Linked DNA regions of Homo sapiens. The protein of the gene in region 3 purifies or fractionates together with the protein of the main gene of each other region. This does not show direct contact. Each region holds a gene or a part of one and is shown on either strand. Other genes may lie near its edges.

Region 1 (5,254 bases), on a different chromosome or scaffold from region 3:
AGGCACCCACCACCACATCCAGCTAATTTTTTGTATTTTAGTAGAGACGGGGTTTCGCCATGTTGGCCAGGCTGGTCTCGAACTCCTGGAGGCCTCAAGTGATCCATCCGCCTCGGCCTCCCAAAGCACTGGGATTACAGGTGTGAGCCACTGTGCCCGGCCTAATCTCAGTGTATTTTGACCCTAAGTTGGATACTCCCCACTTCTCTAAAAGACTATCTTTTCTTCTCCTCAAACCATCAGACATCTACAGATCAGACTTTAGCTCTTTGGTAGGCTTGAGGGAAAAGTAGTGGTTGACTTCAGACGAGGGAGACACTGACCTGACCCCGATGATTCTCCCACCCCCGCTGGACTTCTGCTGCTCCCACACCAAGGGCGGGAAAGGCTGTGCCAGCCAGTGGCATCTGAGGAATCCGTAGGGGAGTGGACTTCTTGTGGGGAGCAAGAGAGATTTTTCCATTCCACTCCTTTGCTGTTTGTCTGCAACCACTCTACACCTTTTCAAAGTCTCACCACGGAGGAGTTGCATTTTGCGGACCCTCTGCTTTTCCTCTGTCTGCACCACTGACACCAGGGGCGAGCTTTGTGTTTGCTCCCAATGCCTCCGGGTCAAGTGAGGAGTTCAGAGAGGGCCTGGTGGCTGACAGGTCAGGACGGCAGCCTTCTTCCCTGAGCACAGAGTGGACACATTTCCAGAGAACCAAGAGGTGGCCACCAGGCCAGTCACATGACAGCATCTAATGTGCCCAGCCTGGAGCCGCTGCCAAGAATTCACGAGATGAACCAGGGTCCCGGCCCTGGATGAGCTTCTGGTCATCTCATGGGTAACCTGGCCTCCTGTTTACCTCCTCTGCCTGCGCTCCTGAGGAGTCAGGGGGCCATGGAAAAATCCAGCGCTTAGCCTTTATTTACGACCATTGGGACCAGAGATGTCCCCATTGAAGGGTCTGTGGGCAGATCAGGTGCCTGGGGGAGGGCACGCGACTTTTCTCTGCTTTCCATTTCCCTTCATACACTCATACACACACACACACACACACACACACACACACACACACACACACACACACACACACCACTAAATACTGATGGGTTTTATTTGATTTTAGAGCTTGGGTAACATCCAGGACACCTGTGACTTGCTGGTCCTGAAGGCAAACATCCTTCCTCTGTCCTAAGACTGGATTCTGATGACAGCCCTGGTGAGGGGCGTGCGCAGGCCTCCCCCGCGGGATGGGTCACTTTGCTGGTAGAGCTGTTTATGTTTATGGTCCCAGTGCAGGGAGGGAGGCAGAGGGTGCTCCCTGGTCACACTGGTGGCCTTTTTAAGGCCTTCAAAAAACGTGTGCAGAAGAGCAGAGCTTTGAAGAGGCTGGAACACACCATATTCTCAGAATTTTTTTTTTGGGGACGGAGTCTCGCTCTGTCACCCAGGCTAGAGTGCAGTGGCACGATCTCGGCTCACTGCAAGCTCCGCCTCCCGGGTTCACGCCATTCTCCTGCCTCAGCCTCCAGAGTAGCTGGGACTACAAGCGCCCGCCACCACGCCCGGCTAATTTTTTTGTATTTTTTTAGTAGAGACGGGGTTTCACCACGTTAGCCAGGATGGTCTCGATCTCCTGACCTCGTGATCTGCCCGCCTCAGCCTTCCAAAGTCCTGGAATTACAGGCGTGAGCCACCGCACCTGGCCTTCTTTCTCAGATTTTAACACAGGAAGAAAACACCAACTTTGCTGCTGAGACGCAGGCTTGAGAATAAAATGAGCTTCACCCTGAGTTCCTTCTGGGTCCTGGTAGTCAGCCCAAGTGAGGAGGGCTGGCTTCAGCAGCCTTGGAAAAGCCCTGCTCCAGGCTGGCCCTACACTGTCGCCCTGTTGGGGCCTGGAGGGCCAGGGCTGCAAATCCAGCACCTGCTGTTTCTGGGGCCAGAAGATCTCCTGCGGGCAAAAGCCACCCCTCTCCTCTGTGTGTGAAGGGTGAGCAGGAAATTCCCCTCTCCAGGAGGGCAATGCCAGGCTCTCCCCAGCCCTCCTTGGTGGCTCTGCCCTGGGAGAAAGTGACCCGGCTGGCGGGGCTGCGATGGCCTTGCTCTGGTGCTGCCTGGAGAGCCGGCCTCCCCTCAGCTCCCAGAGTCTTGTGGACAACTGTCCCTTCACATCCATCACCGGCAGCTGCTGCCAGCTGAGAGCGGGAAGCTGGCTGGTCCTCCGGCAACGTGATGGGGACACCCGGGGACATCCTTACTTCCTGTGAGACTGGCTGCCTGGAGAGAAAAGCCAGAGCAAGATGCCAGTGCTGTGTGGTCTCCGCACAGAATCCCCTCTGTCCCACTCAGTCCCTCTTTCAGCCGGCTCAGAAGCGAGGGAACCTTCCCTCTCCCAGGTCACCTGTTCTGTGGCCTGGGCTCGACTGGCGGGCCGGCTCTTTCCTCACAGGAAGCAGGCTGCTTGGTGCGGGTCACTCAGTCAGCTTTGCTGGCAACAGCTCACGTGTTTGTTGAGCCCACAGGACACACAACGCCCATGGCTGGCTGAGCTGTCCACACCGTGGCCACGCTATGCTGCTAGATGTGGGGCCAGGCCAGCCACCAGCTGCTGGTGTCACTGTTGCTATGACTGGGGATCCCTGCCCCAGTGGCACCTTCCTCCTGGCCGAGCCTCCCCTGGATTTGCTGCACCTCCTCTGCGCCTGACCTGGGCTGCGACTGGCTGGGCTGGGGTTTTGGGTGTGTTTCCCAGTGGGAAGTGGGAGGGGTCCCAACCTGGCTCCCCAGCCATGGCCATTACCCCCACTTCCAACCCAGCGTGTCCCCAGCTGACCAGAGCGCCCAGGGCCTGGCCAGGAAGGTAGTAGGGTGGGGCGGGCTGGGGGCGGCCAAAGAAATGCGCATATCCTAAGCGGGACTCCTTTCGTCCTGCCTGGCCTTTTGTTCTGTCCTTTTGTTTTCCCTGTGTTTTGGTAAAGCCCTCTAGAAAGGTTCAGCTCAGTTGGGGCGTGGAGGTGGAGGGGCTATCAATTGGCAGAGGCTGGAAGGGGACAGAGAAAGACAAAGAAGTGGTCCTTACAGTGAGCCTCAGGTGAGAGGGTGAGAGAGAGGCCCCAGGGAGAGAGTGGGGGCCCTTGGGCCCATCCCATCTTCAGGCCCTTCTGGCGGCCCCTCCATCCAGCCTGCGAGCAGACACCCGCTTCTGTTTGACCTGGGGGTGGCCTGACCGAGGCTGGGCCAGGCAGGGACACAGTGGCTGAACCAGGGGCTGGACCACCTCCCACCAGGGCAGGTCCGAGTTTCAGGGCCAACCCCGGGGCAGCAGGGCCAGCTCAGGGCCAACTCTGTGAGCTCCACAGAGGGAAGTGGGGAGGGGCTTCTCTCTCAGTGACCTGCCTGGAGGTCTCACTCCTCAGCTTGAGTTTGAGTCACTGAGGCCAAAGGGAATTTAATAGGAAGGAAGATTCATGCAGAACCGGTCCCTGGAGGAAAGGAAGCCACCTGCTGGGGCCTGGTTGTGTGGGGAAGGGAAGCAGGCCTTCTGCCCTTCTGGCCTGGCCTGGTACACACAGGAGCACGGGGCCAAATATAGCAGCAAAATGCCCTTCCCTGCAGGTTGGCGGGTGGCCAGGCTCCCACGCCAGTGGGGCCCAGGCTGACTTACTCGGCAGGCCCCTTGTGGAGGACGCTGTGGAGCCGGGGCGGCTGGCCTGCTGGGGGCCACACGAAGAGAACAGAGGGGCCAGAACTGACGCCTTTGCCTTGGGTGGGTTCCAGTCCAGCATCTCTGGAGTGCAGGGGGCCCGGGGCTTGCAGGTGAAGGCTGATGCACATTCCCTAGAACAAAACGTGCAACCTGGAGTCCCAGCTACTACAGCATTAGAAACCACAGGAGGGGCCGGGTGTGGTGGCTCCCGCCTATAATCCCAGCACTCTGAGAGGCCAAGGCGGACAAATCACCTGAAGTCAGGAGTTAGAGACCAGCCTGGCCAACATGGTGAAGCCCCGTCACTACTAAAAATTCAAAAATTAGCCGGGCGCGGTGGCGGGCACCTGTAATTCCAGCTCCTCAGGAGGCTGAGGCAGGAGAACCGCTTGAACCTGGGAGGAGGTTGCAGTGAGCCAAGACGGCACTGTTGCACTCCAGCCTGGGCGACAAGAGCAAAATTCTGTCTCAAAAAAAAAAAAAAAGAAACTGGCTGAGCATGGTGGCTCACGCCTGTAATCCAACACTTTGGGAGGCCGAGGCGGGCGGATCACCTGAGGTCAGGAGTTCGAGACCAGCCTGACCAATATGGTGAGACCCCCGTCTCTACTAAAAATACAAAAATTACCCAGGCATGGTGGCAGATGCCTGTAGTCCCAGCTAGTCAGGAGGCTGAGACAGGAGAATTGCTTGAACCTGGGAGGCAGAGGCTGCAGTGGGACAAGATCACGCCACTGCACTCCAGCCTGGGTGACAGAGTGAGACTCTGTCTCAAAAAAATAAAATAAAAAAAAAGAAAAAAAAGAAAGCACAGGAGGAAGGAGACGATGGGCATAAGGTGGGGAAATGCAGGCACCCATGGGCAAGAATCCCCATGCCATGGAGCCTTGGGTCCAGCCCCACCGCTCTCCAGATGGTGATTGCACGGGAGTTCCCTGACACCTTGGGAGCCTCAGTTTCCCTGCCTGTAAAATGTCTAAGGAACAGCTGTGAGAATTCAGTGAGGACATATCCTGGGCCCAGTTGTTAGCACCCCTTAGATGGAAGTATAGTTCTGGGAAGTAGGACTTGGGAGGAGACTGTGGGATTCTTTTGGTTTGATTTGTTTCTATATGCCTTTTTTTACATTGATAACATATCACTTTAATAATTAGAAAAATAGGCCGGGCGCGGTGGCTCATGCCTGTAATCCCAGCACTTTGGGAGGCCAAAGTGGGCAGATCACAAGGTCAGGAGTTCGCGACCAGCCTGGCCGGCATGGTGAAAACCCATCTCTACTAAAAATACAAAAAATTAGCGGGGCATGGTGGTATGTGCCTGTAATCCCAGCTACTTGGGAGGCTAGGCAGGAAGATCACTTGTGCCTGGGAGGTCAAGGCTGCAGTGAGCTTTGTTCACGCCAGGGCCCTCCAGCTTGGGCAACAAAGTGTGACCCTGTCTCAAAAAATAAAATTTTTGTATCACTCATAACACTATTCCCCCAAATATTTTCCATATTCTACCTTTTGCCTATGTGACATTGTTGCTTACTTGTGGGTACAGTTACAGGCTCCTGTTAC
Region 2 (4,587 bases), on a different chromosome or scaffold from region 3:
TGTGGATATTTCACTCTATGAAAATTAAAACTAAAACTCTTGTGTTTGCAGGCAGAGAAACCACAAGTTTATAGAAAACTATGTAACAAATATTTATTAATAATTTTTCAGGACTCAGAAATGTTGCCTAGGCTGGAATGCAGTGGTGCAATCTCGGATCACTGTAAACTCCACCTCCCTTGTTCAAGCTATTCTCCTGCTTCAGCCTCCACGCAGGTGCTCCTATGCCTGGCTAATTTTTATATTTTTAGAGACAGGGGTTCCCCATGTTGGCCAGGCTGGTCTTGAAATCTTGACGTCAGGCAATCCAGCTGCCTCAGCCTCCCAAATGGTTGGGATTACAGGCATGAGCCACTTCATCTGGCCATATTCTTTTTATATTTCTGTATAATTTTTATTACGACCATAAAAATAACCCTGTAGTCAATTAAAATTTAATTGTACATTTTCAAATAACTAAAAGTGTATAATTACACTGTAATACAAAGGATAAATGCTAGACGTGATGGATACCTTATTTACCCTAATGTAATTACTACATATTGTAGTCCTGAATCACAGTATGCCATATAAAGCATAAACGTAAACACATACTATATACCCACAAATACTAAGAATAAATTTCTGTAAGAATAAAAATTTAACCTATGGGAAAAATATTCTTCAACTCAATTAATTTAAAGCCACTGGCAAAGTGATTACTAATGATGTTATTCTACTATATACCAAATAGTATACTGCTACCATCTTGTAACTATACCCTTGAGTAAGGTGGGATAGGTTAAAGTTAGTGGCATAATATGGCTTCATTAAATGCAAAATAGTCTTAATATGGTAAAAAATAAAATAAAACTAGGCCAATCTCAGCACTTTGGGAAGCCGGGGCAGGTGGATCACTTGAGCTCAAGAGGTCGAAACTAGCCCGACTGATATGGTGAAACAATTAGCCGGGCATGGTGGCACACACCTGTAGTCCTTGCTACTTGGGAGACTGAGGCAGGAGAATCGCTTGAACTTGGGAGGTGAAGGTTGCAATGATCACACAGAGATTGCGCTGCTGCACTCCAGCCTGGATGAGAAAGTGGACTCCATCTCAAAAAAAAAAATAAATGGATACAACAAAATTAACTTCACACACAATCTAACAATTTTTTAATGTAGTGTATTTTATTACATAAAATTAGTAAAATAATACAGTAATTTAATATACCTTTAACTGTAATTCATAATTTCTCTCACTATAATGTAGAAAAGTATTACTCTGAACACTACCTTATACATTACTTAATATAGGTCAAATACGAACAGCCTGTCCACTTATATTTTCATCATGCATCTTACATTTTAATATCCTTTCTCTTTAATAGAAAAGGTTATAAGGAATGCCCAATAAAGAATCTGTAATATCTCTGATGCAGCATCAATTGATCACATGCTTTCACATGTGAATAGAAATAAAGTAACAGCATAAATTTGAAAGCTCTATTACCTTATTCACTTTTCAAAAATTTTTTCTCAAGAAAGCAAGTATACTTTCAATGTAATTACAATGCTTCAAAAAACCTTTTAAAGCTATATATAATTTATCTAACAATTTTTGTTGTGGATTCTTTTTTATACTCAACACTGTTTTAGTGTAATGTCTGAAGTATCAGTGCCTTATTCTACTGTAAATTCTCTGATATTTACATGGAATTCATTTTGAATTAAATATTTTTTATATTTACTGTTTCTGCAAACATATATTTTAGTATCAACTCTCTGGTGTTTTCTAAGCTGTAGTTTTTGAAAAAAAATTTGTTTCCAAATTCACTACATTTGCAGGATTCTTCTCTAACATAAATTCCCTGTTGTTGAACAAAGCTGGAGCAACTGCTTCAGGGTTTTCCTCTAGTACAAAATGTGTGCAATGAAATCTGTGATGCAAGTAAAGGTAATACAACCCCCTTTATATGTGTAATGGTTGTCTTCAGAATACTCTTCTTCACTTTAAAGGCTTCTATTTTCTGAAAGATTTCTTGAGCATAATTGCACTTTAAATGCTTTCATTAACTGTGAACCACCTTCTGTTGGGTAAGATGTGAGTAGGCATTAATGGGTTTTCCATATTTTTTATAATTGTGCAATTTTTCTCAAGGATACTAGCTTTCCTGTGAAATAAGGTGTATGCACTGATTAAAAAGTTTTCCCACATTCTTCACACTTGTAGGAGTTTTGCCAGTATGAATTATCTTACCTACAATCAAGTCTTGCAACCATATAAAGGATTTGTCAAATTTTCTATTATTTCTAGGGTTTCACACTAGTATAATCATCTTTATGTACAGAAAAGTTGGAGGTGGTGGTAAAAGCACTGTCACATCTTTCAAGTTTGTAAAGTTCCTCTTCAGCATGAATTATCACCATGTCTCTTAAGAACTGAGAACTTGTGGCTGGGCATGGATGCTCATGACTGTAATCCCAGCATTTTAGGAGGCCAAGGTGTGTGAATCACAGTTGGAGACCAGCCTGTTAAATATGGCAAAACCCTGTCTCTACCAAAAATACAAAAATTAGTTGGGCATGGTGGTGGAGGCTGAAGCAGGTTAATGGCTTGAACCAGGAGGAAGAGGTTGCAGTGAGCAGAGATCGTGCCATTGCACTCCAGGCTGGGTGAGAAGCATGAAACTCCTTCTTAAAAAAAAAAAAAAAGAATTGAGAACTTGTTATAGGCTTTGCTGCATTTTTCACACCTGTAGAGTTTCCGTCCAGTATGAATTATGTGTAGTAAGGGTTGAGAACTTCCTTAAAATGATTTGTCACATTCTTTATTTTTGTAGGAGTTATGTTTCATATAAATTCTCATATTTAGTAAGAGTAGAGGGGTGGTCAAAGGCTTTCCAACAGTCATCACATTTATACGGTTTCTCTCCAGTATGAATTATCTTATGTTTATTAAGGGTTGAGGAATATTTCAAAGATTTGCCATGTTCTTCACTATGTAGGCTTTCTGTCCAATATGAATCCTCTTATGTGTATTAAGGTCTGAGGACAAGTTAAAAGCTTTGCCACATTCTTCACATTTGTAGGGTTTCTCTCCAGTATGACTTATCTTATGACTAGTAAGCTGTGAGGAGCGCTTAAAGGCTTTGCCACATTCTTCACATTTGTAGGGTTTCGCTCCAGTATGAATTATCTTATGTTTACTAAGGACTGAGGAGCGCTTGAAGGCTTTGCCACATTCTTCACATTTGTAGGGATTCTCTCCACTGTGAATTATCTTATGTGTGCTAAGGGCTGAGGAGTACTTGAAGGCTTTGTCACATTCTTGACATTTGTAGAGTTTCTCTTCAGTATGACTTATCTTATGTGTAGTAAGGTTTGAGGAGCGCTTGAAGGCTTTGCCACATTCTTCACATTTGTAGGGTTTCTCTCCACTATGAATTATCTTATGTGTGCTAAGGGCTGAGGAGCGTTTGAAGACTTTGTCACATTCTTGACATTTGTAGGGTTTCTCTTCAGTATGACTTATCTTATGTATAGTAAGTGTTGAGGAGCGCTTGAAGGCTTTGCCACATTCTTCACATTTGTAGGGTTTCTTTTCACTATGACTTATCTTATGTTTATAAAGGAGTGAGGATGAAATAAATGCTTTGCCACATTTATCACACTTGTAGGGTTTCTCTCCAGTATGAATTCTCTTATGTGTACGAAGGACTAAGGAGCGCCTGAAGGCTTTGCCACATTCTTCACATTTGTAGGGTTTCTCTCCAGTATGGATTCTCTTATGTGTACTAAGGATTGAGGAGAGCTTGAAGGCTTTGCCACATTCTTCACATTTGTAGGGTTTCTCTTCAGTATGACTTATCTTATGTACATAAAGGATCGAGGATGAAATAAATGCTCTGCCACATTTATCACACTTGTAGGGTTTCTCTCCAGTATGAATTCTCTTATGTGCAGTAAGGGTAGAGGAATACTTTAATTCTTTGCCACAATCTTCACATTTGTACCGTTTCTCTCCAGTATGAATTCTCTTATGTGCAGTAAGGGTAGAGGAATACTTTAATTCTTTGCCACAATCTTCACATTTGTACCGTTTCTCTCCAGTATGAATTCTCTTATGTGAAGTAAGGTGTGAGGACCTGTTGAAGGCTTTGCCACATTCTTCACATTTGCAGGTTATCTCTCCAGTATGAATTTTCTTATGTGTAGCAAGGGTTGAGGACTGGTTGAAAGCTTTGCCACATTCTATACATTTGAAAGGTTTTTTTCCAGTATCTCTTATCTTATGTCTGTTTGAATTTGAAAATATATGAGAGACTTTCACATATGTATCACATTGAAATACTTTGCTCTGGGTAGCTGTCAAACATTGGTTAAGTCCATTATAACCTCTTTTGTGTACTTTACCCTCATCCACACTTTCACAACCTTTTTTTAACTCTAAATTGCCATATTCACGTTTTTCATATCTTGTCACTATCACTTTTTGGAAGGAATCTTTTAGGCTCTGCTCTGGACAAAGGTCTTGGGCAAAATGAAAACACATAACTGAAAGAAACAATAAGAACACATTACTTCAATTGCTAGATTCTGATAAATACA
Region 3 (4,346 bases):
GGAAAAATATATTTGCAAATTATATCACAGACAACACTAATATCTCCAACATCTAAAAATAGAGAAAAGACCAAAAGCAAAATGGACAAAGGATATGAATAATCATTCAAAGAAGAAATTAAAATGGCAGCTGAGTGAAATGTAGTGGAATTGCCGTCATAATAAAAAGAAATAACAAAGACCTGCATTCGTATGGCATAACCTCTAGGATATACTGTTTTTTTGTGTGTGTGTGTGTATGTGTATACATTTACTTTTATTGTAACAAAGCAACTTGTACACTTTTAATGTTTAAAACTGAGCATCATCTTCCCTTTCCAGCGAAACAAAAAGAAAATTTAAAAATAAACAGGAACAAAATTACAATAGAGAATGTCAATTCCAAATAAGATCCTACAGGTTCTGCTGATTCTCCCATTGAGTGGCAGGGCTCAAGTCATCATTAGGAGGGAATTTATTTTAAAAGTGTCATCTTAAACTGCAAGGATGTCTGTCAAATATCACAATTAAACATGCCAAAGGAGAAGCCATGTTGTCAAAATGCCCACTTAACCCACCCAAACATCTCAAATCCACACTTTGCTGACCTTCTATAACCCCATTTTTTTAAGTTTTTTTTCTTTTTTTAAACACGAGAAAGTAGACAGATATGTGTTGGTAAATGCTAACTGTCCATATTGTCCCTTTGACCTACATAGAGACACAGTGTACTCTCTGAACCCAATATACAGAGAAAGGAGGAAAAAAGCTAGAATTCTATGCACTACTATACAGGGGCCTAGCATCCTCCAGCTTCCAGCAGAGCGAAGGGAGCAGGTTTTTCTTTTTCCCCACAGAGCTCGGTGGTGTTGATTCCATACAGTTTTTGTTCAGACAGGAAGGGATAAAAATGAACTTCGAACAGAAAAGGGTAGAGACTCTTTTCCCATTGTATTCTGCTCAAGGTATTTCCCCCCAAATAAGTTGAGAACCATGGAGTAGAGAAAAGAGAGCTGAAGAACAGGGTGACTGAGCACAAGAGAAAAAAAAAAAGACTGCAACTTGCTCCCAGGGCTGGAGAAAATTTTAAAAAAGGAAGGTTGGAGTCCATCAGTGTTCTATTAGTCATCTTCTCCTTCATCCTCCTCTCCTTCCTCCCCTTCATCATCATCTTCATCTTCTTCACCTTCATCCTCATCCCCTTCATCAATATCTTCTAATTCTTCCTCCCCTTCATCACCATCATCATCATCATCATCATCATCTTCTCCTCCTTCTTCATCATCCATATCAGGAACCAAGTAATACTGTAATGGGTTTGGCCAAATATCATCTTTGATGACCTCTTCTAACTCATCAGCACCTGCATCAGAATGATCAGTAAACCAGGTAAAGAAGCTCTCTGGTTCCTCATGCTGCCTCTTCCTGCTGGCTTTATTCTGCGTTTGACTTGAACGTTTCGTCACATCCTTTCCAGATTTCCATTTGATTTTGGTGGACTTTGAAGATGGATCACCACTCTCATTCAGATGAAATTCTTTGGAGAAAACTTTATTTTCAAAGTAAGGATTTTCATCAAAATAAAAATCTATTCTGTAACCTGATTTAATATCTTCAAATTCTGTCACTTCAACTTTAGTCAAATAATGCAGTGCCTCTTCGTCCTCCTCCCCAAGCAGTGAAGACACTTGTGGATGGTTGACAAATGTTGTTACCCCAAAATTTGGGATTTTGGCGATCAATTCTGACCTCTTCTGAAAAAATGGTTGGCGGAGTTTGTTATATTTCTGTTCTACTTTCAAAATCTCCTCACTGTCTTGTTCATTAAGTCTGTCTATTTCATTTTGTACTTCATCAATGTGTTCAATTGCTTCTTGCTGTTCTTTTTCTCCCTTCTTCGGCAAGCCTGCAGAGGCCGATGTCTCCTCCAGTCCCAGAGCAGGAGGTGGTCTTGGTTTCTTCTTTTGAAGTGGGAGTGGAGACTGGCGTTTAGGGGCCATGCTGTTAGGGAAGTCCAAGAACCAGACCATGAGTCTCCTTGCTCGTCTGGAAGCAGGCAGAACACTGTAGGATGTACTGTTAAATGAGGAAAAATAAGATGCAGAATACTAAATATAGTATGCATGTTACCTTATGTTTAAGAAGGGGTCATCTGAGTACATGGAATATATGGAATACACACATACATATACACATGCATTCTTTTTTCCAAGGTAATAAAGGAATTTACCCACTTTATTTCTAGTAGTATGTAGTTTCACTTTTTATATTTAGCTGTCTTATCCATTAAATTTTTATATATAGTTCTTTTTTCTTTTTTTTTGAGATGCAGTTTCACTCTTGTCACCCAGGCTAGAGTGCAGTAGGTTGATAATCGGCTCACTGCGACCTCCACCTCCCAGGTTCAAGCAATTCTCCTGCCTCAGCCTCCCGAGTAGCTAGGATTACAGGCCTGCACCACCACGCCCAGCTAATTTTGTATTTTCAGAAGAGACAGAGTTTCACCATGTTGGCCAGGCAGGTCTCGAACTCCGGACCTCAGGTGATCTGCCCACCTTGGCCTTCCAAAGTGCTGGGATTACAGGTGTGAACCACCATGGTCAGCGAATTTTTATATATAGTTCTTAAAAACAAAAAACAAAAACAAACACAAAAAAACACCACTCAGCTGGGCATGGTGGCACATGCCTATAGTTCCAACTACTCAGGAGGTTGAGACAGGAAGATCACTTGAGCCCAGGAGTTCAAGGTCAGCCTGGAAAACATAACAAGCTCTCTTGCTCTCTCTGAAAAGCTTTTTGCTTTTTTAAAAAAATTTATTGAGATGGAGTCTCCCTCTGTCGCCCAGACTCAAGTGCAGTGGCGCCATCTCGGCTCACTGCAAACTCTGCCTGCCAGGTTCAAGCAATTCTCCTGCCTCAACCTCGAGTAGCTGGGATTTGAAATTTTTCATATTAAAACTTTCATTTTTTGTTTTGAAACAGGGTCTCACTCTGTCACTCAGGCTGAAGTGCAGTGGCACGATCACGGCTCACTGCAGCCTCTAACCCCTGGTTTAGGCGATCCTTCCACCTCAGCCTCCTGAGTAGCGAGGACTACAGGCATGTGCCACCACACCTGGCTTTAATTTTATTTATTTATTTATTTATTTATTTATTTATTTATTTATTTATTTAGTAAGTAAGTAAGTAGAGACGAGGCCTTGCTATGCTGCCTAGGCTGTTCTTGAACTCCTGGGCTCAAGCAATCCTCCCACCTCAGACTCCCAAAATGTTGGGATTACTGGTGTGAGCCACCAAGCTCAGCCTAAACATTTTTAAAGAGGGAGAAATAATGCATCAAAAATGGGTTTGCTTTCATGAGATTAGAGTTCTTGAAAGAAGTTTTTCCTTCCAAGGCAATTTTACCTAAATTTACTTTTCTCACATTAAGATCACAGTTAAAGATGACCCTAAACCAAATTAGGAGTTTAGCCACGTTTACCTTCACAGCTCCCACCGCTAGTTCCTTAAACTCTCTTTTCCTCCTGATCAAAAATTATTTCAGGAAGAACATCTGAAAACCTCACTCACATTAAGGGATAAATGACTATAGAGATGAATTAAAATAAAAATAATGCTTTAAGTTAAATTATCTAATGGTAGAATGTGAAGCATCAATGACAAGTTTTTTTGTTTTTTTTTTTTTAGAGACAGTCTTGTTCTATTGCCCAGGCTAAGTAGTGCAGTGCTGCGATGTGATCATAACTTACTGCAGCCTCGAACTCCTGGCTTCAAGCAATCCTCCCACCTCAACCTCCCAGTGTTGGAATTACAGGCATGAGCTACCATGCCCAGCCATGTTTTGTTTTTTAAGGGAGTATTTACTCATTCTTTAATCATTTCACATAGCCGCCTAAGCTACCTTAAGTTTTTTTATTTTTATATATATATTTCTTGAGACGGAGTCTTGCTCTGTCACCCAGGCTGAAATGCAGTAGCACGATCTCGGCTCATTGCAACCTCTGCAGTGAAATGATATAGTTAAGTGATTCTCTGCCCCAGCCTCCCAAGTAGCTGGGACCACAGGCATGCACCACCACACCTGGCTAATTTTGGTATTTTTAGTAGAACCGGGGTTTCGCCATGTTGGCCAGGCTGGTCTCGAACTCCTGACCTCAGGTGATCTGCCCGACTCGGCCTTCAAATGTGCTGGGATTACAGGCATGAGCCACCAAACCCGGCCTAACTTAAGTTGTTTTAAGATAAAACATGAACCAGGAATCATTCTGTCACCCATTTCCAACCAGAGAGTAGCCTAGTTGTTACTTTATCAGGTGATAAAGAGGCCTGGTAGAAATCTGGCAGGGCTTTGAAGGGAGTCTGGTG
Region 4 (5,254 bases), on a different chromosome or scaffold from region 3:
AGGCTCCCTCCCACTGGGGATGAAGGAGCTGGGAACCACACATGCCATTCTGCTGGGCCCACCCAAGTCTGAATCCATGGAGGGGGAGGGTGTCCTGAGAGTACCTCCCACCCACAAACCCAAAACACCAGGCTCAGATTTCTCTCTGGATGGCCACTCCCTGTTGTCACCCCATGATCTGGGTGAGATCCAGGATTGCAGGTGCACAACTGCCCAGAGAGAGGTCCAGGAGGTAGACTGCCTCCTACAGTGATGGGACAGGATACCTGGGAGTCCTGGCTGCCAATTCAGCCCCCACCCTGATGGAGTGTGATGGAGGGGACTGAGACTCAGGCTGCTTCTGGATAAGATGCCCCACCAGACACAGGATTTGCAAGTCGTTCTTCCACTTGGTGAATTATCTTTTCAAGTTCTTGGTGTCCTTTGAAGAACAAAAATTACCAATTTTGATGAAGTGTAAACTTTAGTTAGTAACATATTGGCTCACCAATTCTGATCATCATCATATATGATATATTGGTTCATCAATTATATGATATATATGATATCATATTTACGTACTTTGGGAGGCCAGGATGGGAGAATCACTTGAGCCAGGAGTTAGAGATCAGCCTGGACAACATAGTGAGACCCCCATCTACCAAAAAAAAAAAAAATTAGCCAGATGTGGTGGTGCACACCTGTGGTCCCAGCTACTTGGGAGGCTGAGGCGGCAGGATCACTTGAGCCCTGGAGGTCTAGCCTGCAGTGAGCAGTGATCGCACCACTGCACTCAAGCCTGGGTGACAGAGCAAGACTTCGTCTCTTAAAAAAAAAGAAAAGTAGGGGAAAACAATCACCTGTGGAGGAGAATAAGGAAACTCTAAGTATTATCTGTTCAATTTTTCTGTCAAACTACAACCGGTCTAAAAAATAAAGTTTATTAAGTAAAATAGTGAATAAAATACCATTTCATGGAAGATTCACAGCTATGTGAAATAGACAGATGGCATACAATATAACATATAGGATGATATCACTTCCACAAAAAACAGACAAAAATAAGGCCGGGCGTAGTGGCTCACACCTATAATCCCAACACTTTGGGAGGCATAGCTGGGTGGACTGCTTGAGCCCAGGAGTTCAAGACCAGCTTAGACAGCATGGCAAAACCCCGCCTCCACAAAAAAAAAAAATACAAAAATTAGCTGGTGTGGTACTGTGCACCTGTAGTCCTAGCTTGTTGGGAGACTGAGGTGGGAGAATCACTTGAGCCCGGAGGCAGAGGTTGCGGTGAGCCAAGAGCGCCACTGCACTCCAGCCTGGGCTACACAGTGAGACTCCATCTCAAAAAAAAAAAAAAAAAAGGCTAAGAATAGCCAAGATGTCGTACAAAATACAGTTAGGATTGTTAACAGACTGAATGTTTGTATTCCACCACCATCCCCTGCCCAAACTTTCATTTGCTGAAATCCTAACCCCCAAACTAAATGCAGAAACCAGCATGCGTGAAACAAACAGGCAAAGAAACCAAAAAAAAACTCTTTTTGGCATAATATTAATGGTAATAACTTACTAAAAATTCAAAAGAGGAAGAGCCAAGCAAAATTCAGCCTAATGATAAATAGATGGTAAAACTATGAAGAACCACCTTTTAAAAATGAGGACCTGGTCACCTGTGGGTACAGACGGGAGACAAGATCAGGACATACCAGAAATGCCCAATGCCCATTTATGAACCTGGGTAGTGAGTCCACAGGTGTTTCACACAACCCACTCTCCTCTCCTCACAGTGTGGAAATGCTCCCTCCTCCAGGGTCTCAATTCTCACCAGCGAACACTTACCCAGAGCCAGGTGAAGGTTCTGATCTCTAGTGTCTTTTTTCATATACCATTTCTGACACCAAATGTGTGGTGTTTGCTGAACACAACCAAATCTCCAATTCTCCAACACCAATTAAGCATTCAAATCAATTCTGACACTACCCAGAGTTAACGGGGACCCCACAAGTTCAGGGCTCATTACCATAACAGTGCCCCACTGCAGATGCCAGTCACAAGCCCCAGGGATCACCCATACTTCTCAGCAACTGCATATAAATCAGAAATGGCGAAATGGAAGGGATGGATGTAAGGGAAAATGGCGGCAGAAGATTGGGCAGGTATGTAATCCTGGAAATAGCTATGGTTAAAGAAACTCCCCCGTCTTTTGTATTCTGCAGGAGCAGGTTACGCAAAGAAACACTCTTCTCATTATGACTTAGATGACACTGCTTTTTTACCTATGACAAAGCCATACACAGACTAGAAATTCCCTTTATTTTCCTCACAATTGATTAGCTGAACAGCTCTGTCTTCAGTGATCAGTCAGAACAAAGTACCTGTTAACAAAACTTTGGTTAAGTTTCTCTTCTTCCTCCAGCCCCTGAACTTTGACCCACCCCCAGCCTGAGCCTATATACAACCCCTCTGATGACCCTCCTAAGAAGAGACTGCCTTCAGGATCTAGGTGGGATTTTGCACCCTGCATCCTGCCTTCCACCTCCCACCTTCTTTCTCATCATTTGCTCCTCCCTACAAAAGAAAATCCTTTTCTGCATAAACTCTGAGATGCTTGCAGATTTTTTTTTTTTTTTTTTTTTTTTTGAGACAGAGTCTCACTCTGTCGCCCAGGCTGGAGTGCAGTGGCGCGATCTCGGCTCACTGCAACCTCTGCCTCCTGAGTTCAAGCGATTCTCCTGCCTCAGCCTCCCGAGTAGTTGGGATTACAGGCACGCACCACCATGCCCGGCTAATTTTTGTATTTTTAGTAGAGATGGGGTTTCACTATGTTGGTCAGGCTGGTCTCAAACTCCTAACATTGTGATCCACCCACCTCGGCCTCCCAAAGTGCATGGATTACAGACGTGAGCCACCACGCCCAGCCTGAGATGCTTGAAGATTTTATACTTGGTGCCTTCTCCCCTTTCGATTATCCTTTAGAATAGTCATTCCTGTCTGGTGTGGTGGTGCTCCCCGCCCCACCCCCATAATCCTGGAATTTGGGGAGGCTACGGTGGGAGGATTGCTCGAGGCCAGGAGTTAGAGACCAGTCTGGGCAACATAACAACGTCCTGTCTCTCTTAAAAAAACTTTTTTAAAAATATAAGCCAGGCATCATGGCACATGCCTTTAGTCCTAGGTACTTGGGAGGCTGATGTGAGAGAATTCCTTGAGCCCAGGAGATCAAGGCTACAGTGAGCTATGATCGCACCACTGCACTCCAGCCTAGGAGACAGAGTGAGACCCTGTCACACACAAAAAAAATAAATAAATAAAAATAAAATAAATCACTCCTTACCTAAATCCAGATTTGTTTCATTAGAAACGTCTACAAACAGACCCAAGATAATAGCAAGTACATTCTCAGAAAGGCATCACCTCAACCACCTCTGCCTATGAATCCCCAGCTTTCCAGGGCTCTGAGCTTCTCTCACTATAAAGGGCTCCACCCAAAGTCAGTTGTGAGCAGCTGGGACACTGCAGGGGAGGCTCCTCAGCAAGAACCACTGGGCCTGTAATGTCCTCTCTTTGAAGGCTCAAGATTGGTCTTAGTTTCAAGTCACTAGTCTGCTGTCTCTGTTTCCCAGTCAAGGTTATGCATTTAATTTTCAATGAGAAAATACCCAGGGTTTGAAGATTCCAGTAAAATCACTCAAATTCACTGTTTATAGCAAGGAAGGAAATTGTAAGGCACTTATATTTCATACCTTAACAGGAAAAGTAAAAGTATCCATCCTCTTCAGACAATAAACATGTTATTTATTCTTTCTATGGTAACAAATCATGTACTAAATCATATTGGAACACTTCTAGGAGTTACCAAGTCCTGTCCTACTAGGACTTCGCATTAAACTCTGATGTCTAGATAACAGGAAGAGAACAGTTATCCACTGTCACAAGTTTGCCACCCTGCAAAGCAGAGGAATTGATGTTTTGGTGAATCTCTGTAATTCACCAATTTATTTGCTACACTTACTTGTGGAAATGTATTCATTTTCTGCAGTCATGATAGAAGAGAGTTTTCTCTCTCTCTTTTCCTTAGTATTCCCAACACTAAGCCCTGGAATTCCATTTTAAATCACCACACCCCACCCCCACAAAAAAAAACAACATACTTGAGAAACTTACTACACTTGCTTTGGGAAAGAAAAAAATAATAATTTTTTTTTTGAGATGGAGTCTTGCTCTGTTGCCCAGGCTGCAGTGCAGTGGCGCAATCATGGATCACTGCAAGCTCCGCCTCCCAGGTTCATGCCATTCTCCTGCCTCAGCCTCCCAAGTAGCTGGCACTACAGGCACCCGCCACCATGCCCAGCTAATTTTTTGTGTTTTTAGTAGAGACAGGGTTTCACTGTGTTAGCCAGGATGGTCTCGATCTCCTGACCTCGTGATCTGCCTGCCTCAGCCTCCCAAAGTGCTGGGATTACATGCGTGAGCCATCGCGCCCAGCCATAAGTAATAATTTTTAACAAACATAAGACTAGATATTTAATGTTTTCTGAAATCCACTTCCTTCTTGCCTCTTTGCAAAACTGTCTTATATTTCAAGGTCTACTGATGAAATACATTTATAGTTACTTAAAAAAGAAAAAAACTGAAACTGCAATAAGTGAACAAATCTTTTGCAGGGGACAAACCCAGGAAGGGGCTGCGCTAACCTGGAACAGAGGTACGTCTGACTCAAGTTTCACATCTTTTTTTTTGAGACAGAGTCTCGCTCTGTCACCCAGGCTGGGGTGCAGTGGTGTGATCTCGGTTCACTGCAACCTTTGCCTCCCACGTTAAAGCGATTCTCATGCCTCAGCCTCCCCAGTAGCTGAGATTAGAGGCACCTGCCACCACACCCAGCTAATTTTTGTATTTTTTAGTAGAGACAGGGTTTCGCCATGTTGGCCGGGCTGGTCTCGAACTCATGGCCTCAAGTGATCCGCCCACCTCAGCTTCCCAAAGTGCTGGGATTACAGGTGTGAGCCACCGCGCCCGGCCTAAGTCAGGTCATTCTATCACCTGGGATATCGTCCACCCCCTAACCTGCTCACTGAAGGGCTCAGTGACCACCCTTCCAAGAGACACTGCATTTTGCCTCCATCTGCCTGAAGTACATTTTGCTTTTCAAGTTCTTGCATCACCTCAGTGGGATGGGTTTTCCTGTCCTTGGGATAAGTTTTCTCACTTCACCAGTCTAAAAGAATCCAGAGGGCAAGAATCATATCTGTTTTTCCCCTCAATACCA

What was found.
Region 1: the proteins of SETSIP (region 3) and ARMC9 purify together in Homo sapiens (co-immunoprecipitation; one large-scale study listed by IntAct). This does not show direct contact.
Region 2: the proteins of SETSIP (region 3) and ZNF90 purify together in Homo sapiens (co-immunoprecipitation; one large-scale study listed by IntAct). This does not show direct contact.
Region 4: the proteins of SETSIP (region 3) and ZNF627 purify together in Homo sapiens (co-immunoprecipitation; one large-scale study listed by IntAct). This does not show direct contact.

The regions. Positions count from the first base shown.
Region 1 is NC_000002.12:231,368,525-231,373,778, reverse strand, and holds part of ARMC9 (lisH domain-containing protein ARMC9), read right to left. Parts: intron 3,827-5,254; coding exon 3,654-3,826; intron 2,267-3,653; coding exon 2,244-2,266; 3' UTR 1-2,243. UniProt on the Homo sapiens protein: Involved in ciliogenesis. It is required for appropriate acetylation and polyglutamylation of ciliary microtubules, and regulation of cilium length. Acts as a positive regulator of hedgehog (Hh)signaling.
Region 2 is NC_000019.10:20,117,727-20,122,313, reverse strand, and holds the end of ZNF90 (zinc finger protein 90), read right to left. Parts: exon of another isoform or gene 4,534-4,587; coding exon 2,954-4,533; 3' UTR 1,149-2,953; downstream 1-1,148. UniProt on the Homo sapiens protein: May be involved in transcriptional regulation.
Region 3 is NC_000001.11:92,073,433-92,077,778, forward strand, and holds SETSIP (protein SETSIP), read right to left. Parts: upstream 1,980-4,346; coding exon 1,101-1,979; downstream 1-1,100. UniProt on the Homo sapiens protein: Plays a role as a transcriptional activator involved in the early stage of somatic cell reprogramming. Promotes the differentiation of protein-induced pluripotent stem (PiPS) cells into endothelial cells and the formation of vascular-like tubes (in vitro).
Region 4 is NC_000019.10:11,599,377-11,604,630, reverse strand, and holds part of ZNF627 (zinc finger protein 627), read right to left. Parts: intron 422-5,254; exon of another isoform or gene 267-421; intron 1-266. UniProt on the Homo sapiens protein: May be involved in transcriptional regulation.